3 separate regions of the Homo sapiens genome follow, and all the other regions are linked to region 1. The links come from fine-mapping of genetic effects on gene expression. A gene starts in region 1. Each other region holds a variant in brackets. All regions are shown on one strand. Distances are between the middles of the regions.

Evidence for each region. PIP is the estimated chance that this variant, and not a neighbour inherited with it, causes the effect.
Region 2: its variant is fine-mapped to the expression of TAGAP-AS1 in whole blood (TOPMed, PIP 0.97).
Region 3: its variant is fine-mapped to the expression of TAGAP-AS1 in lung (TOPMed, PIP above 0.99).

Annotation. Positions count from the first base shown.
Region 1 is chr6:158,996,029-159,006,413 of GRCh38, reverse strand. TAGAP-AS1 (TAGAP antisense RNA 1) reads right to left here and starts at 6,541. Exons shown (of 5, transcript NR_183546.1): 1 at 6,022-6,541. It overlaps RSPH3 (radial spoke head 3), which reads left to right and starts at 6,212. Exons shown (of 8, transcript NM_031924.8): 1 at 6,212-6,979. The coding sequence starts at 6,864. RefSeq lists enhancers at 5,904-5,953, 5,526-6,497, 6,364-6,523, 6,694-6,763, 6,794-6,843 and 2 more.
Region 2 is chr6:159,044,335-159,054,719 of GRCh38, reverse strand. It overlaps TAGAP (T cell activation RhoGTPase activating protein), which reads left to right and starts at 9,729. Exons shown (of 10, transcript NM_054114.5): 1 at 9,729-9,841. The variant C/G (reference allele first, on the strand shown) is at 6,240.
Region 3 is chr6:159,022,648-159,033,032 of GRCh38, reverse strand. It overlaps TAGAP-AS1 (TAGAP antisense RNA 1), which reads right to left. Exons shown (of 5, transcript NR_183546.1): 2 at 6,992-7,084; 3 at 5,803-5,889. Among named protein-coding and RNA genes, the nearest start is that of TAGAP, 17 kb to the left of the region's middle. The variant CA/A (reference allele first, on the strand shown) is at 5,825.

The DNA.
Region 1 (10,385 bases):
AGTGGAAGCAAACATGTTAGCAAATCATTATAAAAGCCATGTGGCAAGTAAAAGATGGCGTTGTGGCTGCAAACTATATGAACCCAAGTTAGAGGCATCAGAAATGGCCTCCTGGCCGGGTGCTGTGGCTCACGCCTGTAATCCCAGCACTTTGGGAGGCCGAGGCGGGTGGATCACCTGAGGTCGGGAGTTCAAGATCAGCCTGACCAACATGGAGAAATCCTGTCTCTACTAAAAATATAAAATTAGCCAGGTGTGGTGGTGCATGCCCGTAATCCCAGCTACTTGGGAGGCTGAGACAGGAGAATCGCTTGAACCTGGGAGGCAGAGGTTGCAGTGAGCCGAGATAGCACCATTGCACTCCAGCCTGGGCAACAAGAAGTGAAACTCTGTCTCAAAAAAAAAAAGAAATGCCTTCCTGGAGAAAGCAACAGGAGCTGAGGTTTAAAAGAGGAGTAGAAAAAAAATCCAGGAAAAGAGACAAGGAAAAATCATAAAGCACAAACACAGCGTGGAAACATGATAGTTCATGCAGTGGGACTGCAAGCGCTCAGCTCTGCTGAGAAAAAAAGTACAAGACAGAAATCAGTGAGATGTGAAATTCGAAAAATACGCAGTAACCGGGTAGTGGCAGGCTTATAGCATAGTTTAAGAAACTTGAACTCATTAGGCAGTGGGTTATGGAGCAAGCATGATCAAGGATCACATTCTGTTCGATTATTGTTTGGTTCCATAGACGATTTAATTTAGACTACATGAGGTCAGAATGATGAGGTCAAAGGCTGGTAGGAATAGGAAGGATACAAAAAAGAGGATCCAGAAGCAAGAAACACTGAGGAAGTAAAATGGACAGGACTTAGTGATTATTGGGATATGGAGAATGAGGGGAGGGGGAACAAGCAAAAGGGGCAAGAAATGGGGGATCTGGGAGTGGGAGGACAATGAACATCATAAGCTGATGCTTTCTTGCTTAAGTTCTAGAGTCCAGCAGTCAAGGGCTTAAGTCTTGGTCCTGTCACTTGCTTGCTATATGACTTTGGTAAGTCATTTTAACTTCTCTAAATTTCAGTTCCTTGCAAATTAAATGGGAATAATATCAGAATCTACCTCATTGTTAGACTGGGATTGTTATAATAACTAAATGAAATCAGGTATGTAAACTGCTTAGCTTACTGCCTGCCATACATCAGAAACATCTATTGATTAAAGAATTTTAAAATGATTATCTGACTATGTCTGTGGTCATAGATCTACCTTTTCTCTTCTTACTATAGACGAATTGTCCATGTTTCTAGGCAAGGCCAATCCCTCAACTTATGCACAAAAGCCTATTCCTTTTTGCCAACATCATTCCACCAATTCTTCCCTCCGTCCCACACCATCCATTCCACCCTCTCTCCTGAATCACTTCTAGAAGCACATACACATACGGTCAATTCTACCATTAAAAAATATTGAACCTTTTCTTGACTCAATTTCCCTTTAACTACCAGCCCATTTGTTTTTTCTTTCCTTGAGTCATAAATCGCTCTTCTGTCACTCTCTTCAGGATCCATTATAACTGAACTTTCTCTTCTACAACTTCATGAAAGTTGCCTTTTTTCAGATCACCAGAGACCTCTATGCTGCTAGATCCAATGTTCTTATCTTGCTTAGCACATGTATAGCATTAGATACAGCTGATTACTTTCTCCTTGAAACACTTTCATTACTTAACTCCCAGGTGACCAGGCTTTCCGCATTTTCTACCATTTTGTTGGCCCTCTTTTGCAGTCTCCTTTGCTGATTATTCCTCATCTTTCCAAACTCTAAATATTGGAACACTCAAGGCCTTATCTCTCTACACTCCCTTGGTAATCTTATCAAGTCTCATGGCTGTTGATTCAAAAATCCACTTCTGTAGCCCAGACCAATCTCCTGAAACTCTAGACTCCCATGTCCAACTGTCTACTCAACATCTCCACTTGGATGACTAACATGCCTTCCAAGCTTGATGTGCCCCAGACCAAGCTGCTAATGCTCACTCCAATAATGGATCCTCCCCAGCGTTCCCTCTATCACTAAATGGCAACTCCATTCTTCCAGATACTCTAGTCAACAACTTTATCATGGCCTCTAGCTGTAATTGAATAGTTTAAATTAAACCAGTCCTCTCATGGGAATAAGCACAAGAGCTGAACATTTAAAAAAGCACACATAACAAAAACTACACAGGCTGTTTGAAGACACTGGAGAGCAACCAAGATGGTCAAGACATGAGAGACTGGGATCCCAGAAGACAGATGCATAAAGTGATACAGAACTTCTCCATTGCTTTTTCTGATTGGGTCATTTGCTGAGTTTTGTGCAGGGCATTTATGGCGAGCAGAAAGCAGTGACCTGGAGGTATCAGGGCCCTTTCAGATACGGGGAGATAAAAAATTGGAGTTGAAAACTGCGGATAGGACTTGAAGGGACAGATCCCAAAGAAAGGAGGATCATAGAGAAGCCAGTCTGACATTTAGTTTGGCTTTTATCCTTGAGGCATTTGCTGAATTCTAAGCTGTAAGGGCACTGGAAATCAAGAAACCAAACAGTTGCTAAATAGCTAAAATGCTAAGTGTACATTTCAACAGTCTCACAGAGCTGGGAGTACAAAAATTGGAGTTCAAGGTCACCCAAAGATGGGGACCTGTTAAATACCACAGATGTTCATGTTGAGAAAGAATAGAAAGGCCTAGCTCTGGGATAAGGCCAAACTAGAAAATGATCAGCCCTCACAAAGTCTGAATCCCTAATTAAAGGTCATCTGAGGCCAGGCGCAGGGGCTCACACCTGTAATCCCAGTACTTTAGGAGGCCAATGCAGGTGGATCACTTGAGGTCAGGAGTTCGAGACCAGCCTGATCAACATGGTGAAACCCAGTCTCTACTAAAAAAATACAAAATTGGCCGGGCATGGTGGTGCACACCTGTAATCCCAGCTACCTGGGAGGTGAGACAGGAGAATTGCTTGAACCCGGGAGGTGGAGGCCACAGTGAGCCAAGACAGTGCCATTGTACTCCAGCCTGGGCAACAAGAGCAAAACTCCGCCTCAAAAAAAAAAAAAAAAAAAGTCATCCGTTCCTACTCTAATTGCTTGCCAGAATAAAATTAAATCCTTTCTGGAGAAACACAACATCAGCCACAGTCTCTATGCAATTTATTTATTTATTTTTTATTTATTTATTTAGTTTTTTTTTTTTTGCCAGAGCCTCTATGTGATTTTTTTCCTACACAATGTCTAACATTTAATCAGAAACCTTAGGTTCATCTCTTTTGCCTTTCTTTCTCTCGTGCACCACGTCACGTCCAATCTGTTCTACCTTCAAAATTGAGCTGGGATCTTCCCACCACTTTTGTCCCAGATCCAGAACCAAGCTCCACTGAAAGCAAGGCAGTCTGTCCCCCGACATGGCCTCGGCACTGACTCACTGCATCTCTCGGGCCCGAGCACCACACCTACACCAGATCCAAGCCACCCTCTCACCAGCCTTATTGGGAGCAGCTTCCTATCTGGTCTCTCTGCTTCTGCCTTTGCCCCACTTCAGTCTATTCTCAACCAAACAACTAGAAAAAACAAATTTTTTTAATCAAACTATGTCAAGCTTCTACTCAAAACCCTTTAGGGACTTTTAACCCTAGAGTAAAACCTAAAGTCCTTTCACTGACCTACAACAGGGCGCACGGCCCAGCCTCTGACTTCATCTCCGAATGCTCCTCCTTGTGCTCACTCTGCTCCACTCACTCTTACTGCCATCCCCAACACGACTTCCTGCCTTAGAACGAGGAATTGGCTGCTTCCTTGACCTGGAATGCTGTGACAATTAGTCACAAGTCTCAAGTTTCATTTCTTCACCTCCTTCAAGTCTTTACTCAAATGTCACCTTCTCAATGAAGCCTTCTCTGACCACTATAAAATTGATAGGTCTCCCATGCCCCTAGCACCTAGCCTTATTTCCTGCTTTATTTCGAATTAGCTATTATAATTATGTAACACCCATAATGTACTCACTTTTCTTGTTTGTATGACTCCTCCACTAGAATATAAATTCTGTCAAGGCAGGACTTTTAATCTGTTGTTTGTTTTTGTTTTTCACTGCTATATCCCCACTAACACCAGGGGAGTGGGGACGAGGGACAAGAAAACAACAATGCTTGGCACATACTAGATACACATAACTATTTGTGGAATGAATCTTTCAGTTTCAGATCATCCAAGAGTTGTCCACAAAATAGTCAGATATCCAGGACTGTCACCTGAGGGAGAAGTCTAGGTTAGAGATACATCCTTTGCTACCCTGAGTATATAGGTGGTACTAGAAATTACAGACGTGAAATGGGACTGCCCTGGGAGAAAGTACAAGAAGAGAAACAGGCTGTGGATAAAAACTTGTACAGGCCAGGCACAGTGGCTCACGCCTGTAATCCCAACACTTTGGGAGGCTGAGGAGGGCGGATCACCAGGTCAAGAGAACAAGACCATCCTGGCCAACATGGTGAAACCCCGCCTCTACTAAAAATACAGAAATTAGCTGGACGGGGTGGCACACGCCTGTAGTCCCAGCTACTCAGGAGGCTGAGGCAGGAGAACCACTTGAACCGGGGAGGCGGAGGTTGCAGTGAGCCAAGATCGCGCCACTGCACTCCAGCCTGGCCACAGAGCGAGACTCCATCTAAAAAAAAAAAAAAAGAAAGAAACTTGTACAAGAACCTATAGTGGCTATCAATTTCTTTATAAAGCCCACTGTGGCTGGTATAGCACTATTGTTTACCCACTTAATACCCACTCAATTCTGCCCCAACATCCTCCTAACAGAATTTGTTCTCCTCCTCCCTGGCCAAGTGTTTCTTGGAGGCCTAGAAAGACCGGTTACCTGGTCTAATCCAAATATGGTGGTCTTATATAGATCCTAAGCTTAAATCAATATGATGTAATTCTGGTCAGTTGGGAGTTTACGAGGGGGTTTTGCTCTTCCAATAAAGACAAAAGAGCAGATACTTCTATTACTACTTTGTTGAAGCCAACAACCCAGGTGACAGAGTGGAAAGGTAGGGGAAAAAACGTGTTGTTGATAATGTGCTGAGCCCCCAAGTTACCCTCCAGGTTAACCAACCTGGGGAGTGTAAAATAATGAATTCCTTATTATTTCAGCCACTTGGAATTGGTTTTTTGTTACTTGAGGGAAAAAATATTCTAATTAATATGCTAGTGTTTACTGTTTCCACGATGTGGTGTCAGCCTGTCTATATATATTTCTACAACTCATCTACACAAACCTTGCTTACAGTTTTCCAAATGCACCTTGGGCTTCTTGAGCCTTTGATCAAGCCATTCCGAATGCACTTCCCCCAAGAGGCTGGCCAGTTAAAATACTATCATTTATCAAACACAACTTAAATGTCACTTTCTCCTCTAGCCCTTTCAGAAATTACCTCAAAATTAAATGATCAGACCTAAAATATGTTGGGAGTGTTTTCACCTCTAGAATTTACCATACACCTTTATGCTAGTGTTACTTATAGAATGCCTACATCTGCTTTAGGTCATACACTTCAAAGCACAGAACGGTCCAGATCTTAATATAAAGGCTTGCCATTTACCAGGCACAGCTCTAAGTATTAACGGTTTTAATCCTCAAGACAAAACCTAAAGAGATAAATTCTTCTATTGCCACTTTGTGGATTAGGAAAATGAAGCACAAAAACATTTAACTTGCCTGAGGTTTCGGAGCTAGTACATTCTAGAACCTGGATTCAAATCAAGACAGCAATTAGCTGAATGAAGGTGTAACTGCAAATGCAAATAACTGATCACAAGGGATACACATTCACTCATACAAGATAGAAGATTTTTAACGTTGCTGGTACTAAAACCAAAGCGTCTGCGTTTTTAAGCGCAGCCCCACCCCGCAATACTAGAGACATTCTTTAGAGCTGGAAGCCTGATAGATTAAGGGGAACTATGCCTTTGTATTTTTTAAGACTCAATAAATTGCTCACTTCTTTCCCAAAATGAGGTGTCTGTGGGGGAGGCCCCTGTCGCTCCGTGTGCCAAGGGTCCTCCGATTGCTAGCACACAGCGGTGAGCAGAGAAGGTAGGTGAGGAACTGCACTGACTCAGCTGCAGAGGGCGGCGGCAGCCCGCCCCTGGGGCGGGAGAAGGGCAGGAGCCGGGAGACACCAGGAAGCTCTTCCCCGCCCGGGCACGTAACAGAGCTGGGAGCCTGGCTGCCAGGGGCGTGTTATCGCGGGGGCAGCCTGGGAGCGCTGCTGCGCCGCGGCAGGAGAAACAGCCGAGGACACCCTGGAAGAGCAGGAGCACGTGGGCCTGCGAGAATGGCGCCAACACCAGCCCTGCAAAGCCACATTCCAAAGCCGGGCCAAGGACAGCCACCGTTGCCCCGCAGGCCTCAAGGATGACGGTCAAGCCAGCCAAGGCCGCCTCCCTAGCCAGGAACCTCGCAAAGCGCAGGCGCACCTACCTGGGTGGCGCGGCTGGGCGGAGTCAAGAGCCGGAAGTCCCTTGTGCCGCAGTCCTTCCCGGGAAACCTGGGGACCGGAACTGCCCGGAGTTCCCGCCCCCAGACAGAACCCTGGGTTGCTGGGCAACCGATGCGGCCCCCGCAGCTGGTCTCTGTGGTGCTGGGAGCGAGCCCAGTATAGCTCCCACCTCCTGCGCTGGTAACCTCCCGTCCCGCCCGCCTCCCTTGTTGTCGCCTCTCCTCGCGTCGCGGAATCCTTGCCCTTGGCACTACTTACATCTCTCCGGGTCCCACAACACCTTAGCGCCCACCTGCTTCAAAGCCAAGCTCCACCGAAAGCGAGGCAGTCAGCCCCCGGACATGGCCTCAGCGCTGACTGATCGCACCTCTCGGGCCCCGAGCACCTACACCTACACCAGCCGGCCCCGAGCACTGCCCTGCCAGCGCAGCCGTTACCGGGACAGCCTGACGCAGCCGTGAGTGACCAAGCCAGCCCCTGTGTGGTCCATACTTGCACCCCATCCCCAGGCCGGGGTCTGGCCCCTTCGCCCTGGCAAAAAAGCTGCTTATGCTGTCTTCCCTTGGCTGCACTCTGCCGAAATAAAAGTTCTGCCCTAAGGAATCTCCCGTGGTGTGGAGGAGTGAAGCAGGAAGGGGCATGGGTTGGGCATCAGTTAACTTTTAGTGATATGAGTTGCTGCCGTGGTCCTTAACATGTACACGAATTGGCTCATTTCACAAAGTTTGAATTGTACCAGTGTGTATTGAGGGCCAACTACGTGCTGAGCACCTTACGGGGGGCATTCAAATACGTTTTCTTAGTTAATCCACAGTGCTGTGAAGTTGATTTTATAACTCCATTATGCAGATGAGGAGACCGCGGTGCAAAGATATCCAACAGTAGCATATCCAAAATGGGAGCCGAGTAAATCTCTTCGGCAGGCTTTGAGCAGGAGTAAGATTATTCTTCCATGCAGGACCACAGATTGGTTTTTTGTGGTGGTGGTGGTGGTGGTGGTGGTGGTTGCTGTTGTTGTTTTGAGACGGAGTTTCGCTCTTGTCGCCCAGGCTGGACTGCAATGACGCGATCTCCGCTCACTGCAACCTCCGCCCCCCTCCCCCACTCCTCCCCGATCAAACGATTCTCCTGCCTCAGCCTCCCAAGTAGCTGGGACTAGAGGCGCCCTCCACCACCCCCGGCTAATCTTTGTATTTTTAGTAGAGACAGGGTTTTGCCACGTTGGCCAGGCTGGTCTCAAACTCTTGGCCTCAAGTGATCCGCCCGCCTCGGCCTCCCAAAGTGCTGGGATTACAAGCGTGAGCCACCGCGCCCGGACGGCAGTTTGTGTTTTTACATCCATGAACAGTTGCAAATATTCAAACATACATAGGAAAGAAAAAAAACAAAACATAAGCCTTTTTTTTTTTCTTTTTTTTTTTTTGAGACGGAGTCTCGCTCTGTCGCCCAGGCTGGAGTGCAGTGGCACAATCTCGGCTCACTGCAACCTCCACCTCCCGGGTTCACGCCATTCTCCTGCCTCAGCCTCCCAAGTAGCTGGGACTACAGGCGCCCGCCACCACGCCCGGCTCTTTTTTTTTTTTTTTTTTTTTTTGTATTTTTTTAGTAGAGACGGGGTTTCACCATGTTAGCCAGGATACTCTCGATCTCCTGACCTCATGATCCGCCCGCCTCGGCCTCCCAAAATGCTGGGATTACAGGCCTGAGCCACCACACCCAGCAAAAAAAACATAAACTCTTAAAGTTCTCTTAAAGTTAAACGGTTCTCTAAAGTTCTTTCCATAAGCCTCAAATGTTGAATTCAGCAGAACTTTATAGGAATGCAAGCTCCATGGATGCAGGAACTTTTGCATCTTTTGTTCACCTAGTACAATGCCTGGTACATAGTAAGCACTTAATACGAATTGTCAAACTGATGATTGAACATCAACAATGTAATTATTGATGCTTATTTCAAACGCTCTTTCTAAATTCATAATTATCTTGTTCTAACAAATTCTTTTTCTATAAGAGATGTCTATCACTGTAAGAAAACTAAAATAGAAAATTTAAATTTGAAGAGTGATCATTTATATTAGAAAAGGATTCAATTTTAAAATTTTCTAATCCTTCCAAAAACACTTTCTGGTGCCTTTAAGTGGTTGCTTACAAATCATTACTATCCAATCAGACCAACAGATTAGAAACAAGAATCAATGGTGGTTCATTAGGAACAACTTTTTTGATAGTTGATTAGTATATTGAAGTAATCTATTGATTAGTTTATTAGTATATCTGAGTAATGCACAAGACAGAAAAATCTCAATTTTGAGGAAGTATTATCTTACAAATCATAATCATTGATATCCTAATGGATAAAATACTGATATTTTATCCATAATTTGCTTATGGATAAGGATAATATTCTCCTCTGATATCCTTATGAATAAAATATTTTTTAAGTGTTCAGGAGAGTAGCCGGGCATGGTGGCATGTACCTGTAATCCCAGGTACTTGGGAGGCTGACGCAGGAGGATCACTTAAACCCAGAAGGCGGAGGTTGCAGTGAGCCAAGATCACGCCACTGCACTCCAGCCTGGGCGACAAAGCGAAACTCTGTCTCAAAAAAAAAAAAAAAAAAGTGTTCAGGAGAGTACTTGTCTTAATCCATCTTATGTTGCTCTAACAGAGTATCTGAAACTGGATAGTCTATAAAGAGATCTATTTAGCTCACAGCTCTGCAGACTGAGAAGTACAAGAGCATGGTGCTGGCATCTGCTTGCCTTCTAGTGAGGGCTTTTCTTGTTGTTTCATAACATGATGGAGAAGGTCAAAGGGGAAGCAGATCCGTGGGAAGTGGCCAAACAGGAGGAAGTACCTCATTTTGTAGCAACTTGCTGTCTCTGGAACTAGTCCTGTGAGAACTTAATCCAGTCTCTTGAGAGTAAGAGTTCCCTCACTACTGCGAGAACTGGTGCCAAGCCATTCATGAGGGATCCACCCATGTTCCAAACACCTCCCACTAGGCCCCACTTCCCAACACTGCCATATTGGAAATTAAATTTCCATGTGAGTTTTAGTGGAGACGACAAACCATATCCAGACCACAGCAGTACTTTTAGTACTTGCTGGTGAGTAACTAAATGACCATATCCAAAAAGAGTATGCTTTTGTGTCAATCTGTCTCTATCCTAGAATGTCGTTTAGTTCTTTCATGTTCAAAATTTTATGTTGAACTGGATAAATCTTCAGTTTTTCAGATGACACATGGCTGGAATGGATAACTAACTTATGACTGAAGGGAGTCAAGGTTCTAAATTATCTTGATTGGGTATATATAACTGGGCTGAAACCAAAAAATGAAACTTAATTGGAAAGCTGTGAAGTTTTACTTAGGTATGAGAAGTCAGTTACACAAATACAGAAATGGGAGTATCTGATTTTTCCTTTGAAAGGGTCTAGAAATTTAACACAAGTCTAATGTGAATCAAGAACTTCCACCTTTTCATAGGATTATAAAGCTGAAAGAGAACATTTGAATACTAGTCTTCTCATTTACAAACAAGAGAATGTAATACATCTTTTATGTATTTCTTGGTAGTTGGGTGATCATAAATGCCATTAAATTCACCTTTAGGCATGTGTGAAAAGACAATTGTGATAATGACATTCCCTCATTTTACAAATCCTTTGGTAAAGGATATATAACCCTTCCAATAAAATAACATTTTTAATGCAAATGAATTAAAACCTTAGAACATACCTTTTTTTTATTTTTATTTTTACTCAGGTCAAATAAGGTTTAAAATCACCGTAGAGGGCAGAATAATGATTCCCCAAAGATGTCCTCTTCCTAGTCCCCAGAACCTGTGAACATGTTATGT
Region 2 (10,385 bases), 48 kb before region 1:
CATCCTGAAAATTCCCTTGTATGTCATTTGTATCCATAAGCACAGATTTTTTTAACATCCACCACTGATTGATTTTTATTTTACATCTCTCTGGTCTATTTAAACTTTATTATCTTAAACACACTAAAAAATGCATCATGGGCTCACTGTGAGAAATACTGTATCAGTAGCTCACTAAGATGCTTTAAAATAAAGCTGGATTGCTTCCACCGAGAACGAGGCTAAATCAGTGCTTTTTAAAGTTGCATTTGCAATGCATTGCAATGTTACCCTGGGGGTGCATGTGCAAAAGTCATGGTAACAATTTATGGAGTCACTATTTGTTTCAGGCACCTATTGCTGAATAATAACCACCAAAAACTCAGTCTCCTAAAACAGCATCAATTTCTGATTTAGCAGGATTCTACGGGTTGGCTGGGCAGTTCTACTGTTGGTTTCACACGGTCTCACTTAGATGACATTCAGGATCGCCCAAGACGGCCTTACACACACGTCTGAGAGTTGGTGTTGGCTGTGGGCTGGGCACCTTGTCTCTCCTCCACGTGGTCTCTCATCCTCCAGGAAGCTTGTATGGCTTCCTCACATGGCTATCTCAGGGCTGCATTCAAGAGGGCAAAGGTGGAAACTTTGAGGCCATTGGAGCACAGTATCCTTTTTTCTGCATTCTACAAGTCATGAGGGCAGCCTCATATAAAGTGGGGAAGTAGACTCCGTGTCTTGATAGAAGCCGCCTCAAAGAATTATGGCCACATTTCATTAACCACAAGACTGCAGCAGATTCTAAGTCACCTCAGCTCTCTCACTTTGTGGGTGAGAAGGGGTAAGTTAGGGAAATAGTGCTCCTGAGACGACGCTGCTCAATGGAGGGACGCTGAGGCTCAGCTTCCCACCCAGGCGGACAAGGTACCTGCTGCTTCTAAGATTGCCTGGTGCCTGTGGTTACAGTGGAAAAGGATCCCATTATAAAACTGACAGATCAGTTGACCCCAAAAACTGTGGCTGAGATCACTGGTTAAGCTGCATGTTGGAATTCTCTGGAGAATTTTTTTTAATCCTGAAATCCCGTCTTCAGAAATTTCCATTTTATTGGTCAAAGATTAGGTGTGGGCATTGATTATTCTTAAAAAGCTTCCCAGGGGATTCTCACGTGCAGCCAAGTTTGAGAAGGACTGATATTTAAACTTTAAACTGCCTTTTCTCAATTGTCAGAGAGATTCAACTAACGCCTTATTTACTCTGTCGACCTGGTCATTTGTACATGGTAAACATGCATCATGAAAGGATAATGTTACACACACACACACACACACACACACACACACCCCGAGTGTTCTTGCAGGTGGTGGTCAAGGAAGCTCACCTTCAAGTGTTTAGGGATCTTCCAAGGGGCATTTGTGGAGAGCTGAGCTCTCTCACAAAAAACAGACGCCCCGTGGACATACAGCTGGCTCTTAGGTTCAAGACAAGTTTGTGCACCTGGTGGTCTATTTGGCTTCCTTAACCCAGGCCATTGAAAGTGAGTCGCCAATAGGGAAATACCACATTTATTTGAAAAAATTAAGTAAAATTAGCAAAGCCTCTGTTGAGTTAGATCTCGGGGCTCTAAGTGAGCCAAGCAGTAGATGCCTTCTCTCTTCTGTTTAGCCACCTGGTGAAAGGTCTAGGGCTTAGTCTCAACATAAAAGTGTAAACGATTCCTTTGGAGTAGCCCTCAGCTTTTGTCTGGGAAAACATGGTTGAGCATAGCAATCAGAAGAAGAAATGTGTCCAAATATCCAAAAAAGCAGAAGTACAGCTTCAGGCTGGGCACCTGTTTTACTCATTCTTAAAAATGGATATTTGTGTACTTCATACTGTGCACCCCAGGCTTGTCTTGGGGTGTAAGAATGAATTGCTTCAATTTAAGGACCTGCACTCTAATTTCAAGGGGCAAGATAGAACGTGAAAGCTAGCAAGGAATCATGGAATAACCTAGTGATTATAAAAATGCCGTTAAATAAACTACTCCAAAGCCAGGAAGCAGGAATATATTAAATACATTTTACTTTTTACTTTTTCATGATACAGCAGGCCCTCAAATAACATCATTTTGTTCAATGTCATTTCATTATCACGTGGATGAAGAAAAACAATTTCTTCCCGGCTACGGCCACTCTCAGTGTGGAATTTCCATGCTCTCCCAACATCCACATGGGTCTCCTCTGGGTCCTCTGGTTTCCTCCCACATCCCAAAGCTGTGCCATTCGGTGAACTGGCGTGTCTATGTGGTCCCAGGTTGAGTGAGCTTAGGTGTGTGTGTGAGTGTGCCCTGCGATGGGGTGGCAGCTGAGCCGCCAGGATGGTCTCTTGTCACCCCAGACCCTGAACTGGAATGAGCAGGTAAATAATGAACCTCTTTGTTTTTATTCATCTTTCCTAAATGTACGTATAGCTCACACTTATTTCAATGTTTAATATTTGAAGTGTTATGGGTCTTTACTGAAAAGTTCAGTGATCCTTTTGTGACCAGAAATATGCCACAGGAACTTGACTCTTGTTTACATCATCAGTTAGCCTATGGGAAAATTGTTTTCATTATACGTTGATTTGCTTAGAGTCACAGTTTCCAAGAATCTATGGATGACATTAAATGAGGTCTTACTGTGCTTCCACAGCCATCCTTCAGAGTGTGGCCCTCAGACCAGCTGCATCAGCGTCACTGGGTACTCATTACAAATGCACATTTTCAGGCCTCTCCCCAGACCTGCCGAATCAGACGCTCCAAGGTGGAGGCCACAGTCTAGGTTTGAATGAACCTCCAGGTGATTCTGATACGCGATCAACTTGGAGCAGCACTGCACTGCACATTTGAGAAATGGTTGCTGTTTGAGATTTATGGAAGATCTCACAAAGGCTACAACTCAGAGAAAGGGCTTCTGGGCTCAGTTTTCCAGTTAACATATGCAAACTTAGGAAAGATATGGAAATTTTTTTAAATATGTATCATGGCTGGGCGCGGTGGCTCACGCCCATAATCTCAGCACTTTGGGAGGCCGAAGCAGGTGGATCACGAGGTCAGGAGTTCAAGACTAGCCTGGCCAAGATGGTGAAACCTCGTCTCTACTAAAAATACAAAAATTAGCTGGGTGTGGTGGCGGGTGCCTGTAATCCCAGCTACTCGGGAGGCTAAGGCAGAGAATTGCTTGAACCAGGAGGCAGAGGTTGCAGTGAGCCAAGATCACACCACTGCACTCCAGCATGGGCAACAAAGTGAGACTCCATCTCAAAAAAAAAAATATATATATATATATATATATATATATATATATATATATATATATATATATAATGCTTTCTAGTGTGTTACATAATGTTTTATGACCCAAAAACAGAAGGAGAAATCTTATGATTCTTTTTTCTGTAAGAAAAGCCCAGGAGGCAGCATCAGGTTTGCAAAAATTACGTGGCTTTCCCTTGCCCCTCTGCCCAAAGTCTTTTCACACAGAAGATGACACTAGCTTTAAACCCTTCCCCCGGACTGGTCCTAGAGTCTAAATCAGAACCAGTCTGGACTAGTCCATCAGGAAGGCTACAATTGCCAGGAAAAGAAAGCACTCCACAGACCCAGCCACAAAGGGTTAGGACTTGCTAAATGGTTGCTAGCTGAACCTGGGTGAAAAGGTGAAAATCAGATGTGAAGCCACCAATGAGCACAGTGCCCTGAGCACTGGCAAGCCCGCTCCGGCCAGGTGAGAGTTTGTCTTCAGGTTGGAGACCCCCTTACTGCTTCCCCTGGCAGGAGCTGCGTGCCTAGTGGCCACGCTCCCCAACCCCGAGGAGCAGGGGCCGCTTGGGAGGGCATCACTGAAAGATTTTCTTAGGAGACACCAAATAAGGCACATATTTGAGAAGGGGACCACACACATTCAAAATAACAAATACTTTTCTTTTTTAAAATTTACACAGGGAGGTAAAAGCCCTGGATAATTTTTTTCATATGACAAATGAAAAAAAGTGCTCAGTAAAAAAACCAAAGTCAACTACAGTAAATATATCTTTAAAAGGCATTTTAAAAGCATGGGGCAAACTAAACATTTTTCCACCATTTCTACTTTTTTGGTTCAGATTTTTACAAATGCTGCACATGAATTTTGTAGACTGCTAACAAAGAACCTCAGCTTTCATAGTTTTCTCTTTGTTTCTTCAAAAAAATAACCTACCAAATCATATTGTAGTTAACTGATGTTCAGGGCTGCTGACATGCCTTTTTTGACATCATGTTTGCCTTGTGCAATTTTTCAGGCCAAAATATCAACAGAAAGAAAAGATTCTTTAGTTTTTTTGTTTTTATTTTTTATTTTTTTTTGGAAACGGAGTCTCGCTCTGTTGCCAGGCTGGAGTGCAGTGGTGAGATCTGGGCTCACTGCAACCTCCGCCTCCCGGGTTCAAGTGATTCACCTGCCTCAGCCTCCTGAGTAGCTGGGACTACAGGCGTGTGCCACCATGCCCAGATCATTTTTTGTATTTTTAGTAGGGACAGTGTTTCACCATGTTGGCCAGAATGGTCTTGAACTCCAGACCTCGTGATCTGCCCACCTCGGCCTCCCAAAGTGCTGGGATTACAGGCGTGAGCCACCGCGCCCAGCCACATTCTTTAGTTCTTAAAGTGATAAACACAGCTAAGCTGAAGCCCTACCTGGGTCCTACAGCACTGATAATGTAGCTAAGATGAAGCCCTGCCTGGGTCCCATAGCAGTGATAACGCAGCTAAGGTGAGGCCCTGCCTGGGTCCCATAGCAGTGATAAGCGCGGCTAAGCTGAGGCCCTGCCTGGGTCCCATAGCAGTTTGTGTCATCAGCCATACAGCTTCTAATCACCTAATCTCAGGATGTCTTATTTTTAATTCTTCATCTTGATCACAATAAGTGGAGAAGCCAGTTTAAAAAGAACATTTTGTTTGAGCCTTTCTTAGTTTTCAAGCCAGCTTTTGAAAACACAGCGTTCTTCAAATATTATTTTATGCTGAGCCTATTTTGTATTCCAACACAAAGATAAATTCATAATTGCAAATATCTGAGGGGGCAAATTTGAAATGTCTGCTTCCACTACTGCAGAAATGCAGCCATTTGTGGAGACAGCAAATTATTTTGCAAGATGAAATGATGCTTGACATTATTTCAGGGATGCCAGGGTCCCAGCAAACCTCTGAGAAGTTCCCTGGAAGGCAGCCCTTCTCCTGCCAGGAAAAAAAACAAAAATTAAAAAATGACCTTAAAGGACTGAACTGTATTTACCGTAGCCGAGACTGAGTCCTTGCCTGTATCTGTGAGCCCGGGGCCTGCAGAGAGGTGAGAACGTCTCTTCCAGGCATATCTTCCCCACCCACAGACTTTCCTAGAAGTTTCTTAGAGGAGAGGCAGGCAAGGAGTTTTATTGCTAATTCGCTATAACCAAAGTCACCGCATAAAAGATTCTGCAGGTTGGGTACTTTGCAGATTAGTGAATCCAAGACCGTCATTCAAAGTGAGCACCAACTTCCCAGCCCCCGGAGTCCTTTATGCTAAGTCCTCCTCTGCCACCAGACAGTGAGGAGCATGGCTCTGGGGACGTCCACACCTCCCAGAGCACACAGAACTAGGGAGTCTAAGGTGAGAACACTGGTAAGGCTTTGGTCCTTGGAGGGTGGGAGGTGAGAGGCTGGACAGGTGTGGTCACGCCCTCCTGACAGATTCACTGACAGAAGCTGACACTCAAGTCCACCTAAGGCGAGGCCTCCTTCCTCACCACAGAGCTAGAGAGTCCATGTGTCTAATCCCACAACATTGGTATCGACATAAGCCCGCGGTGTGTGCAAGGAGAGGCTGTCTCCAGCTCAATCAAATTCTGCAACGATGGTCTCTGTTACAGCGTGACAAAGAGGTAGTCTTTCTCCATGAAACGAAACAGTCAAAGGCTAAGTGACAAAAAGTCTGAGTAACAAATTGCAATACCAGCAAACGTATGGTGAGATTTAAATGTTTTATTTTATCACTCAATTTTACTAGTAATTAAAGTATAGCAAATGCCTACTGTGTGCAAAATATGAGGCCAGGCACTTGTAAGAATAAAAGATGAAAAAAGTAGACTCACAGTCTACTGGGTGCGGCCACTATGCAGGGCCAGGGAAGGAAATTTAATTCAATCTAGAAAAGTCCCTTCTTAGAGGAGATAGGACTTGGGCTAGATTCCGAGGGAAGGGCAGAATTCCAAAAGGCAGATGG[C/G]GTGAATGGCATTTCAGGAGGAGGGAACAATTTATCAAAGGCCTGGAGACTCAGAAGCACACTTTTAGGGGATGACAACAGCCTGTGTGGCTAAAACATAGGACAAGTGGGAGATGGGGAGGACGGATAATCAGAGAAAAGGCTGGATTGCCCTTTTTTAAAAAAAAGAAATTGTAATTTGAGTTTTCTAGAAAATCAACCTGTTAATCAGTCATTAGGTAGCCAGACACTGGGGTGATGGAGAAGTCCTGAAGGAAATCGTGAACTCTTTGGGAAAATAATCTTCAATGCAGGAAACTGTTGACATTAATCTCATTACAGAATGCAGGGCTCTGAATCACTGGGTGGTCCCAGGAAGAGAAAGGGAAAGTGAGTTCAAACTGAAGAGCCGGACTCTAATCCTCCAGTTGGTGTTTCCCAGGCAAGCTGGGTAAACAATGTGGGGAAAATGACTTCCATATTCTCGTTCACAACAGTCCAGACTGAAGCGGTAACTGAGCCTGAAAGTATGGGAAGGAACGATGGTGCTTCCAGTCACCCTCCAAAGCACACATGTACACAGCATAGAACTCACAGTCCCCAGAACGGAACTCACTGTCCTTAGAGACTCACCACAAGAAAAGCAAAGCCAATTATTTGCAGAAAAATTGATTGTGACCAGGACCCAAGCGATAAAAGTCCCACTGTGAGAAGCATCTTTACAGGTGTGGGTTTCACCGGGGTTTCCTTCAGCCCAACCCAGCAAAAGCCACTGAAGTTCCTTTCCACGTTCTGAAGACTCTTACTATGCAGGACGATGAGAGCTTGCTTTTCAAAGAGATGTGTGGGAGACAAGAATATGGAAAAAGTGAATCTGACATTTCCATCTTTTTTTCTAACTTTTGGCATGACTGCTTCCAAATTTTACACTTTATTTATAAATGTTTCTCCTAGTGCTCGGAAAACTGCGATCAAAATTACTGTGAGATTTTCAGAGTTGAGGGTGCAGCACCTGCCCTTCACAACTCTTTCTCTTTCCACAGTAGGCGCCATATGCAGGCGGGGCCACAGTCATAAAGGAGAACGTCTCCTCAGTCCCCCAGCAGCACCAGCCAACAATGGTGGCTTTCCTTCAGTCACAAAATGTACCTATTCATTAGATGTTGACTGTCAAAATCTCCCAGGGACCCCAAAGGATGGCACCTCCCTCTGGGCTTTCCCACCATCAGTTGTGTCAATAAGAAGAGCCAAAACATATTTCTGTTTCAAAAAATGGAGGGGCCCTAATTCTGTTGCCGTATTTGCTACTAACTTTTCATCCTAGATAGTTCCCTGGGTGCTTAACTAGGCATGGTAGGTCCCAGAAGAAAAAGAAAAGTCCGTCGATGTAACCATTTCTGCAGGTCATCAAACCATTCATGTTATGTATTTTTAAAAGATGCTGAGGCTGGGCACAGTGGCTCACATCTGTAATCCCAGCACTTTGGGAGGCCAAGATGGGTGGATCACCTGAGGTCAGGATTTCCAGACCAGCCTGGCCAACATGGCGAAACCCCATCTCTACTAAAAATACAAAAATTAGCCAGGTATGGTGGCGCGTGCCTGTAATTCCAACTACTCAGGAGGTTGAGACAGGAGAATCACTTGAACCCAGGAGGCAGAGGTTGCAGTGAGCCGAGATCACGCCATTGCACTCCAGCCTGGGTGACAAGAGCGAAACTCCATCTCAAAAAAAAAAAAAAAGAAAGAACAGTAAGTACATTAAGTTTCTTACAAAAATTTGAAAAGTCCGTTTGTCGGGAAAAAAAAAAGTTTAGAAAATACATACTAGCAATGAATATACATCACATATATATTCTATGATATATAGAACATTATAGTAATATTCTATTTTGGCTATTTTATAAGGAAATGTATATATTCAGAAATTAGTTATTTAGTACCTACTATATGCCTAGCACTAGGCTGGGCACAGCGTAAATGCCCTTTTTCAATTAAAAAAATCAGTGAGTTCACTTTGGAGGTTTATAAAGGCAGGAGAGGGATGCTGAAAGAGTGGTGGCCTCTACAGCTGCCCTGGGAACACTGGGTGAACTCTGGCACTGTGGTGGCTTTCAGAGAGGGAGCCCCCAGCTGGAAGCCTGAAAACCAGGATCTGTCCCTAGGTCCCCACCGAGCCGCTAAGTTACAGAGCAAATTTCGACCTCTCTGTGCTTCGGTTTCCCAAAGTCTGCCCCATAATCACCTCCTTTCAGTAAAATGACAAAAGAACTGACAATGCGGAAAAGTCTTAAAATTAAAGATGCTGATGATAAATGAAGCCAAGTTATTTTAAAACTTTTTATTGAAAAATTACATAAATAGGGAAGTGTGCACATAAGCCTAGCACCACCCAGATCAAGAATGGACCATCACCAAGCCCCCCGCTGGCCCCTGGAAGTCATTACCATCCCCTCTGGGAAACTGCTACTCTTGCTTCCAACAGCACAGACGACTTTTGCTAATTTTGTGCTTTGCATTAATGGGAGCCGGCAGGATATACACTTTCACGTCTGGCTTCTTTTGCTCAGCGTCATATTATGAGATCCAACCATATTGTTGGCTATAGTCATAGGCTGTTCATTATCAGTGCTATACAACATTCATTCCCTATGTGAATGGATCACAATTTATGCATCCATTCTCGTGTCGAGGCATTTGAGTGGTTTCATATATAGCCCTTGATCTACAGAAAAGATCAGAAATTCTCTTATGCAGAAGAGTGATCCACAAATGAAATTCACCATCTCTTTCCTACTTTAAGTTGGTCTGATCAAAGGAATTTTTTTGTTTGTTTTCCTTCCGTGTCAGAACGACAGCTGCTCTGACTGTAAATTAAGTATCAATACTTTTGACCAGGAGTTACAGAAAGGAGGAGGGGGTTACTATATTGACAACTGACTCGAGGGAGTTTTCTTTCTACTTCCAAAGGAAACTAACCTGGCTTTGGACGGTGATTGTTCCTCAAGGAAGGGACTGTCTTGGGTTTCTTTCTGGTTCTGTAACAGTGTCCCACATCCAGGGGTGCTAATCAACGTGTGGTGCTGGTGGACAGAGCAGATGGCACGTGGGAGGGGAAAGAGCACCCAAACAGGATGCAAAAAGAGGCACTTGAAATTACCACTTTAGAAAATAAAGTGATGTTTATGCACAGAATAACACAATTTCTTGTTCACACATCCCACCTATGACATTAATCAGAGCCTTCACCTATGGGCTGAATGTCATGTTTTCCACTCCTAGTAGTTTACAGATTTTTTACTTTGAAGTGGAAGACACAAAAAAAAAAAAAAAAAAAAAAAAAAAAAAAGACATAGCTGCCCTAAAAGGAATGAGGAAGCGAGAGCTCTCCAGTGTCTGGCTGGCTCCGTCCGTGTGACAGCCCATGATGTTCTTTCCGGTCTCTGTAATATTCTGAATTTCCACCTGCCCGCCCCTTCGCTTATAATGCAGAGCATGTGAAGGGAGACCGGCTCGGTCTCTCTCTCTCCCAGTGGACTAGAAGGAGCAGAGAGTTATGCTGTTTCTCCCATTCTTTACAGCTCACCGGATGTAAAAGAACTCTGGCTAGAGACCCTCCAAGGGTAAGTACACTATATATTAACATGCCTAGAAATTACAAGCTGCCTCGCAAGTCACAGGTCACTCAGATCACAGGCAACAGAAAACAGCTATCCCGTGGAATATGCTCTCACTTTATAAAGTCTCAGGACAAAGCTTTGCTTCAACGTGAAGGCTGCACCTTTTTGGTGTAGGAGTTCTGTAAATGTTATCTTTGTTTCATGTTTACTATTTTAGCATCCTAGGGATATGTTTTTTTTTTTTTCCTTTTTGGATTAGATGAGAAAATCCATGCAAAGCACCTACTACGACAGCTGGCATATAGTCAGCACTCCACCAAAAAAGTTAATGTTCATGTTAATTTAAAATGTTAACGTAATTGATATCCAGATTATCTCTTGATGGAACGGAATAAATTGGTAACAACGTTTAGAGTGGTAAAGATAGTTGACTTAAATAATTTAGAAATAATTGTGTTCAGATGCTGCTCTTAACAACATACAACATCTGGTAACAGAACTGATTTTAAATGAAAACTTGTCTATGTAATAGTTTTTTCCAAAGTAA
Region 3 (10,385 bases), 27 kb before region 1:
TTTTCAAAATACTACTTAATGATACCTTGAATATGCCAATAATTTGAATATTTCACCATAACCAGAGAGCTAGGGCTTCTAGTGAGATTTAGATGACAATAAAATGATGCTTTAGTCAAGGATCCAGGAACACCAGAGTTCTGTCCTCTATTGACTTCCTAAGGGCCCACACTAATGACAAATGGGACAATCACAGATGTACCTGATGCAAAGTGTATAGTAAAACCGGGTTGGAAGCCTAATTAGGAGCTCAAACTTAAATTCAGGTCTGATTCCCTGGGAGATGCTCTCTCCTCCGGTAAAGAGGGGGAGAGGTGGATGACCCATGATACACGGATTATCTGTGCTGACACACTGTGCACCATGCCCCCAACCCACACACCAGCACTACTGAGGACTGAAAGAAATTAAAACTTGTTTCAGAAATGTTGACTTGTGTTAGGTGCTTTTGCAGGAGCTTAGCAAAACTAAGATTGCACCAGAACTTGAACGCAACAAATACAACACCTGTGTTACACTGGGGTCCCTAGGAAGTTGAAGTCGCAGCTATGGTTTTTAGCGCTAACAAAACAAATGACAGTTAATGGCCATAGCACATCCTATGGCCATAGATAGAATGTGCAAAGAGCTACAAACACTGTTTATCCTTAGGTTTATCCTAAATTAAAAGTATACATTGATAGATAAATTCTTCTGATCATGATCTCACTGGAAAAATCGCCAATACATGCTTCTCTCTTGAAAGGTCAGACAGAAACTCACATCGGATGCGATCTTACATGTTTCCAGTTTCTTTTTTAATTAAATTATGTAATCTTAACTCTTCCTCTGCAAAAAGAGAATTACTGAGGAATCAGAGGTATAAACGTTTTGCTAGAATTGGAAGTGAATCACTTTTTAGCAATATTTTAAATGTGGACTGAACTTCTGCATTATGTTCACTCCAGAGTAAAAATTAAATGTAAATGAGGAAAAACAAATGGGATGAAGTTCTTCCTCCTACTACAGGCTACAAAGAGGGGGGCATTGTGAAACAAGCAAACTTGCAGAATGCAAAATCTGGCCAGAAATAGGAAATGCAGAATGTTAACATCTCCGTGGAAAAAGAAAGACAACGTGTTGACACAGAATGAATATACGACCCAAATTCACAGAACCTGAGTCTGTGAATACCCCGAAATCTGCTCCCATGCACAGGGCACTAAACCTGTCTGAGCTCCGGTTTCTCCATCTATCAGATGAGGGTAATGATAACTTGCATCAGTTACGGAACGCATGTAACAGAAAACCCAGACAACAGACGCTTAACCAAGAAGGAGGTTTGTGCGCTCTATGAAAAGAACAGACTGGCAGCCCAGGGCTGGGATGAAGGCTCATGGCCTCCTCCGGCCCCGGGTTCCTTCATACTCAGAGCCAGTTGCATGGGGCTATGACCTGTGGACCCAATGCTAGGGTAATTCTCTGCTATTGGCATTTTTAGAGTATTAATAATTGAGAACAGGAGCCTTGCATTTCCACTTTGCACTGGGCCCTGCAAATTATGTAGCCAGTCTTGTGCACAACTTCAACTTTCTAGTCTACCATCCTTTCTGGGAACATGATCCTCTTCCCCCAACCTTTCCCTCCAGATCCCAAGCAGGAACTTTCTGCTCAATAACCTCTACCTCCATCCCAGAGGCCAGAACTTAGTACGTGGCTTCTCTTTTTTTTTTTTTTTTTTTTTTTTTTTTTTGAGACGGAGTCTCACTCTGTTGCCCAAGCTGGAGTGCAGTGGCACGATCTCGGCTCACTGCAACCTCTGCCTCCTGGGTTCAAGCCATTCTCCTGCCTCAGCCTCCCAAGTAGTTGGAAGTACAGGCGCATGCCACCACACCTAGCTAATTTTTTGTATTTTAGTAGAGACGGGGTTTCACCGTGTTGCCCAGGCTGGTCACGAACTCCTGAGCTCAGGCAATCTGCCTGCCTCGGCCTCCCAAAGAGCTGGGATTACAGGCGTGAGCCACCGCACTCGGCCAGTACGTGGCTACTCTTACCAGCAGAGGAACCTAAGAATACAGTTTTTATAGCCAATTGCCTCTCCCAGCAAAATCAGTAAGAAATTAGGAGATGGATACTGCAAGGCCTTGACACAAAAGTCAAATAAAAGAGATCGTAGGTACAACGAAACAAATCCAAATTTAGTTGCTCAATGATTAAAAAGGCAGGATAAAGTAGACTATCTACTTAATATGAGACCATTGAAAATGTTCCATATGATTAGGAATAATAAAAAGATAAGGTAGATAACAGTCTCAAGAGTATTTCAATTATTTGTATGCTCACTGTGAGAATTTTACAATTATACAACAGTAGTTTTAAGCAAAATAAATTAGTAACAAATATTGGCCTCCTACAATATAAAAATATTGCATTTGTATAAGGAATTTACAATCTAGTAGAGAAATAAGACACCTTTGACAGCAAAGGTAAGTTCCAAGTGAGTGATAATAACACAAAATACATAGTAGAAATGAATGGCTGCTTCATGGTCTCATTACTTTAGGATATACTTCACATTTAAAGGAAACTTAAAGATTTCAAACAAGTGCAAGTACAACATTCAAAACAATTGTGGAAGGTTCCAGCTGGATATTCACTTACAGGATTTGGCAATATCTTTGAGAAGTAAATAGTTAGATGTTATTTTTCCATCTTTGCTGAAAAGGGCATTTCTTATCCAAAATTTGTTTTGAAAAACACAAAGCAGTAGATAAGGTAACTGCTGATATACGGGCTGTTCATCTTTCCAAACAACACGTATCTTGTTAGTTTCCTAACCAAGGATTTTCAATGTCTTCTTAACACTATTTTTATTGAGTCTAAAGTCCTCTGCCTACCATCTATCATTCAAGGCCCTTCTTAATTTAGGCCCATCCTAAGTAAGCAAATTCACTTATTTTCTTAACTCTCTAGTGGCTTTCTACCATAAATCATAATTATGACAACAGCTAATTATATATATTAACACCAAGAATCTGAGATATAGCTACAGTGGCGTTCAGATGAAAATTTACATCCTCATATGATTATATTAATAAACAAAAGTAAAAATGAATGAATTCAGCATACCACTTATGGAGCTAGAAAAGGAAATAATAAAAATAAAGTTGAAATTAATAATTTAGAAAACAGAAAAAGAATAAAACTGATAAATACAACCAAAGCTGGCTCTCTGAAAAAATAAATAAAACAAACTTCTGCTTAATCTAAGCAAGGAAAAGGGAGAAATTAAAAACATACAACATGAGAAATGCTAATGGGACAATAACTACAGAAAATTAGAAGAATCAAAAGACTACTTTGCAAATATATTTGAATATTCTATGCAAATATATTTGAAGTACTATATATTATAATACATAATATACATTATATTAATATATATTATATTATATATTGTATTAATATATTTGAATACGCTATGCAACTATATTTGAAATATGAATGAGATTATCATTTTTCTAGGAAGACATAATTTACCAACCTGATTACAAAAAACAGAAAAATCTTAAGCAGATTTATTTCATAGATGAAACAAAGAAACTAGCCAACCACTCTCCCTAATTCCCTAAGTCCAGTTGGTTTCACAGGATTTCTTCCAAATCTTTAAAAAACAGATCATTCCAGTGCTATTTAAACTACCTAGACTATGAAAAAGAAAAAAAAAACTTTTAAATTATCTTGATAAAGCAACTATAACTGCTACCAAAACCCAGTAACAATTTCACATACACAAAAAGGAAAATTACAGATCAGTCTTACAAATATTGATGTAAAAATTATAAAATATTATCTAATAGAATATATGATGACCAAGTGACATTTATTCCAAAATGCAAATATGACTTGATGTAGGAATTATTAATATGATATATCATATTAATAAGTTAGAGGGAAAGTAACATGATTAGATCCATAGATAGTAAGACAAGCCCTATCAAAATTTAATCTCCATTATGAGGTTTTTATTTATTATGTTTTTAAAAATAATACAGATAGGGTCCCACTATGTTGATCAGGCTGGTCTTGAACTCCGGGCCTCAAGCAATCCTCCCATCTCAGCCTCCCAAAGTGCTGAGATTGCAGGTGTGAGCCACTGCACCAGGCCTTTTGAGGTTTTTTAAAAATATATGTAATAAAATAGAAATGAATGAACACAATTTTTAAAAAAATATGTCTATTTCAGACCAAAAGGCAATATCAGACTTAATAAGGAAACACTAGAAACTCCCTTGAAGTCAGAAAAAAGTCTGATTGGCATTATTTCCCTTTATTATCTAACACACTCTGGAGGTACTATCTAAAGCAACCAGACAAGAGAAAGAAATCAGAGAAACAAAAATTGTAGGAGAGGAGGTAAGGCTATGACTATTTACAAATTATATAATTGGATATCTGGAAAATTCATGAGAATCAACTAATAACAAAAATTACTAGAAATAAAACACACTGAGCAAGCAAGGTATAAAATAAATACACAGAAATCAAAAGCCTCTGTACATACTAATAGCTAGAAAATATAGCAAAAGAAAAGGCCCCATGTACGTTCACAAAAAATAGATAGGAACAAAGTTAGCAAAACCAGTCTTTAATAAGATAGAAATCAATGAACACAATTTTTTTAAATATGTCTATCTCAGACCAAAAGACAATATCAGACTTGATAAGGAAACAAAATGTTCCTGCAGGACAAAGGAGTAGAGTTGAATAAATAGAACCACTTATTATATTTTTGGAGAGTAACATAAAAATCATAAAATATGTCAAGTTATCCTACGTTAATTTTTAAACTTAAGGTGATCTTGATTAAAAAAAGAAAGAAAGAAAGGAAAACAGGGAGGGTTTTTTTTATTTTTTTCTTGGTTGTTTTTGTTGCTCACTAGAACTAAAGAAAACTGAATCCACAAATCATATTTAAAAATCAATAAGCCCTAATAGGACAGAGGACACTAGAAAAGAGGAGCAATTATGGAAAACTAGAAACCAGCCCTTCTAGATTTTAAGCGACACTCAACACTTTTGGGAACTGGAGCTTGAATAGACCTACCAAACAGAACAGAGGCAAATGCATACAGGACTTTGGTATGTAAAGCTGGCATTTCAAATCAGTGGGGACTATAGACGATTCAATAAATGGTGTTGGTATAAATGAGTGGCCATTTGGGAAAAAAAAAAAAGAAACATTGGGACCGTATCAACTTATGCTAGGGGAAATTCTGGATACGTGGAAGGTTAAATGTGGGAAGTGAAAGAATCAAAGTTCTAAGAGAAATGAGGAAAAATTCATTTATAATATCAGAGTGGGAAAGCCTTGATAACATGACTTAAAATCCAGAAGACATGAAAGAAAATAATGACAAGTTAAAAACATGAAAATAAAAAACATCTGCATGAGTGAAACACCATAAACAAAGTCAAAAGACAAAGGACAAACTTGGGAAAATATTTGCATCTCATCTAACAGAAACAGAGCTAATTTGGTTTTATTTATTTTCATAGCATTGGGGTACAGGTGGGTTTTGGTTACATGGATGAATTGTACAGTGGTTAAATCTGGGATTTTAGTGGACCCATCGTCACCCAAGTAGTGTACATTGTACCCAACAGGTACTTTTTCATCCCTTACCTCCCTCCTAGCCTCCCCCATTCTGAGTCTCCAATGTCCACAGTACCACTCTGCATGCCTTTGTGAACCCATAGTTTAGCTCCCACTTATCAGTGAGAACATGCACTATTTGGCTTTCTGTTCCTGCGTTAACTCACTTAGGATAAAGGCCTCTAGCTC[CA/A]TCCATGTTTTGGCAAAGGACACGATTTCATTCTTGGGGCTAACTTCTATAACATATAAAGTTCCTGTAAAAAGATAAGGGAAAGAACAAAACTCAATAAGAAATGTGCAAGGGATACGAACAGCCAATACACAGAAAAAGAAAAGCAAATGGAACTGGGCATGGTGGCTCATGCCTGTCATCCCAGCACTTTAGAAGGCTGAGGTGGGCAGACAGCTTGAGCCCAGAAGCTAAGAGACCAGCCTGAGCAACATAGTGAGACCCACTCTCTATTTTAAAATATGTTTAAAAAAAAAAAAAAGCAAATGGCTCTTTAACTTTTGAAAAGATACACAAGTTCACTCATTTTTTTAAAAAAACTAAACTACACGAAGACACTATTTCTCCCATGAGATAAGCAAAAATCTAAAAGTTTAATAATACACTATGCTGATGTGTACATCTGTTACGTGTAACAGGTGTACATCTAAATGTAGATATACACCTGTGTACATCTGTTCTTAAATGTACTACTAAATATTTTATTTTTGAACCTATTATAAATGAAATTGCTTTTCAATTCATTTTCCAGTGGTTTGCTGCTAAAATATAAGAATAGAATTGGCCAGGCACAGTGGCTCATGTCTGAAATCTCATCCTTTGTGAGGCCAAGGCGGGAGGATCACTTGAGGCCAGGAGTTCGAGACCAGCCTGGTCAACAGAGTGAGACCATCTTGACAAAAATAAAAAATAAGCCGGGTATGGTGGCACATGCCTGTAGTCCCAGAAACTTAGGAGGCTGAGGTGAGAGGATTGCTTGAGCCAAGGAATTTGAGGCTGCAGTGAGCTATAATTGTGCCACTGCACTCCAGCCTAGGTAAACAGAGCAAGACCCTGCCTGTAAAATTTAAAAAAGAAAACAGAATTGATTTTTGTATTTTTAATTTCATATACTTTGCCGTATTTACTTACTACTTGATGTGGTTTGGCTCTTGTGTCCCCACCCAAATCTCATGTTGGATTGTGACCCTGAGTGTTGGAAGTGGGGCCTGGAGGGAGGTGATTGGATCATGGGGGTGGTTTCTAATGGTTTAGCACCATCTCTCCACTGCTATCTCATGATGGAATTCTCATGAGATCTGCTTCTTTTAAAAGTGTGTAGCACCTCCCCTTTCATTCTTTCTTACCTGCCATCATATGAAGATGTGCTGGCTTCCCCTTCACCTTCTGCCATGATTGTAAGTTTTCTGAGGCCTCCCCAGCCATGCCTCCTGTACAGCCTGCAGAATTGTGAGTCAATTAAACCTCTTTTCTTCATAGATTACCCAGTCTCAGATAGTTCTTTATAGCAGTGTGAGAATGGACTAATATAGGAAATTGGTATCAGAGAAGTGGGGCATTGCTACAAAAGATACCTGAAAATGTGGAAGCAGCTTTGGATGGGCAGAGGTTGGAACAGTTTGGAAGGCTCAGAAGAAGACAAGAAGATAAGGGAAAGTTTGGAACTTCCTAGAGACTTGTTGAATGGCTTTGACCAAAATACTGATAGTGAGATATGGACAATGAAGTCCAGGCCAAGGAGGTCTTAGAGGGAGATGAGGAACTTATTGGGAACTGGAGTAAAGGTCATTCTTGCTATGCTTCAGCAAAGAGACTGGTGGCATTGTGCCCCTGCTCTAGGGATCTGTGAAACTTTGAACTTGAGAGAGATTATTTAGAGTATCTGGTGGAAGAAATTTCAAAGCAGCAAAGCATTCAAGAAGTGACCTGGCTGCTTCTAACAGCATATGCTCATATGCATTTCCGAAGAGGTGGTTTGATATTGGAACTTATATTTAAAAGGAAAGCAGAGTATAAAAGCTTGGAAAATTTTCAACCTGCCATGTAGTAGAAAAGAAAAACCTATTTTCTGGGAAGTAATTCAAGCCAGCTGCAGAAATTTACATAAGTAAAAAGGAGCCAAATATTAATAGCCAAGACAATGGGGAAAATCCCTCTAAGACATTTCAGAGACCTTCATAGCAGCCCTTCCTATTACAGGCCCAGAGGCCTAGGAGGGAGAAATGGTTTCGTGGGCCAGGTCCAGGGCCTTACTGCTCTGTGCAGCCTTGGGACATGGTGCCCTGCATCCCAGCTGCTCCCGTTTCAGCCATGGCTAAAAGGGGCCACAGTACAGCTCAGGTCATTGCTTCAGAGGGTGTAAGCCCCAAGTCTTGATGGCTTCCCTATGGTGTTGGGCCTGTGGGTATGCAAAGGGCAAGAGTTGAGACTTGGGAGCCTCTGCCTAGATTTCAGAGGATGTATGGAAACACCCGGATGTCCAGGCAGAAGTCTGCTGCAGGACTGGATCCCTCATGAAGAACCTCTACAAGGGCAGTGTGAAGGTGAAATGTGGGGTTGGAGCTCCCACCAAGTTCCCACTGGGGCACTGCCTAATGGAGCTGTGAGAAGAGAGCCACCATCTTCCAGACCCCAGGATGATAGATCCACTGACAGCATGCACTGTTCGCCTGAAAAAGCTGCAGGCACTCAATCCCAGCCCATGAAAGTAGCTTTGGGGGTTGTACCCTGCAAAGCCACAGAGGCAGAGCTGCCCAAGGCCTTGGGAGCCCACCCCTTGCATCAGTGTGCCTTGGATGTGAGACATGGAGTCAAAGGAGAGTATTTTGGAGCTTGGAGATTAAATGACTGCCTTCCTGGGTTTTGCTTGCAAGAGGCCTATAGCCCCTTTGTTTTGGCCAATTTCTCCCTTTTGGAATGGGAGCATTTACTCGATGCCTGTACCTGCACTGTATCTTGGAACTAACTAACTTGTTTCTTTATTTTACAGGCTCATAGGCAGAGGAGTAGTACTTGCCTTGTCTCAGATGAGACTTTGGACTGGGACTTTTGAGTTAATTCTGGAACGAGTTAAGAATTTGGAGGATTCTTGGGAAGGCATAATTGTTTTTTGAAACGTGAAAAGGACATGACATTTGGTAAAGGCCAGGTGCAAAATGATATGGTTTGGTTCTGTGTACTTACCCAAATCTCATGTTGAATTGTGATACTGAGTGTTGGAGGTGGGGCCTGGTGAAAGGTGAATCATAAGGGTGGTTTCTAGTGGTTTAGCACCATCCTTCTAGTGCTGTCTTGTGATGGAATTCTCATGAGACCTGCTTCTTTTAAAAGTGTGTAGCACCTCCGCCTTCGTTCTGTCTCTCACCTGCCACCATGTGAAGACGTGCTGGCATCCCTGTCACCTTCTGCCATGATTGTAAGTTTCCTGAGGCCTCCCCAGCCATGCCTCCTGTACAGCCTGTGGAACTGTGGGTCAATTAAGACTCTTTTCTTCAAAGATGACCCAGTTTCAGGTAGTTCTTTATAGCAGTGTGAGAATGGAATAATATACTACTTCTAATTATTTTTTAGATCCTTAGGATGTAGAAAACAATCATATGTAAACAATCGTATTGCCTGCAAATAAGGACGATTTTGCTTCCTTCTTTCCAATCTTTATCATTTTATCATTCTTTATTGCAGTGGCTAGAAGCTCCAATTCAATATTGAGTAGAAGTGGTAAAAAAAATGAGCACATTTGCCTTTTTTCTGAGTTTGGTAGAATATCATTTAATATTTCACCATTAAGTATAATGCTCACCGTAGGTTTTTCATAGATGCTTTTTATGAAGTTGAAGAAGTCCTTCATAGTCAGTTTGGTGAGAATTTTTCTTATAAATGGATATCAAATTTTGTCATATTTTTTATCTACATATGAAAATGATCAGATGGTTTTTCTCCTTTATTCTGTTAATATGGTGAGTTATATTGATTTTCTAATGTTAAACAAACCTTGAATTCCTGGGATAAAACTAATTGGTTATGCTGTATTATTTTATTATTTGCTTTATGTTTGTCTCCTCTGCTGTTAGTCCCTCTTGTTCTCCCTTTCCTATATTCTTTTGGATTAAGTGAATATTTTTATAATTTCATTTTAACTTACCTATTGGTCTTTTAGTCTTTTGCATGATTTCTTAGAAGCTCCTCTAGAGACTATAATATAATCCCTTAACTTCTCAGTCTACTGGCAATTTTACTGGTCCATTTACCCTCCCCGGCCACACCACCAACACTGCCACCATCTTTTATGCCATAGCTGCCATAAAATCTATCTACATGTGATATAAACCTTAAGTCAATATTATGTCCTTTATACAGTTGTGCATATGTGAAAGAAATTAAGAGGAAAATTGGTCTTTGATGTTTACTCCAATATTTATAATTTTTTATGCTTTTTATTCCTTTTCTCATATCATCTCCCTTCAGTCTGTACAACTTTCTTTAGCTTCTGGAAGTGCAGGTCTTCTGGTGATGAATTCTCTTAGTTTTCTGATATCTGAAGATGTCTTCATTTTGCTTTCATTCTTGAAGGGTATTTTTGCTAGACAGAGATTTCTAAGCTGACAGTTTTTTCTTTAAGCACTTCAACAATTTCATTCGACTGTCCCTGACTTCTATAATTTCTGCTGAGAAGTCCACAACCATTGAAATCATTATTCTCCTATATATAAAATGTGTCATTTTTATTTACGCTTTTAAGAT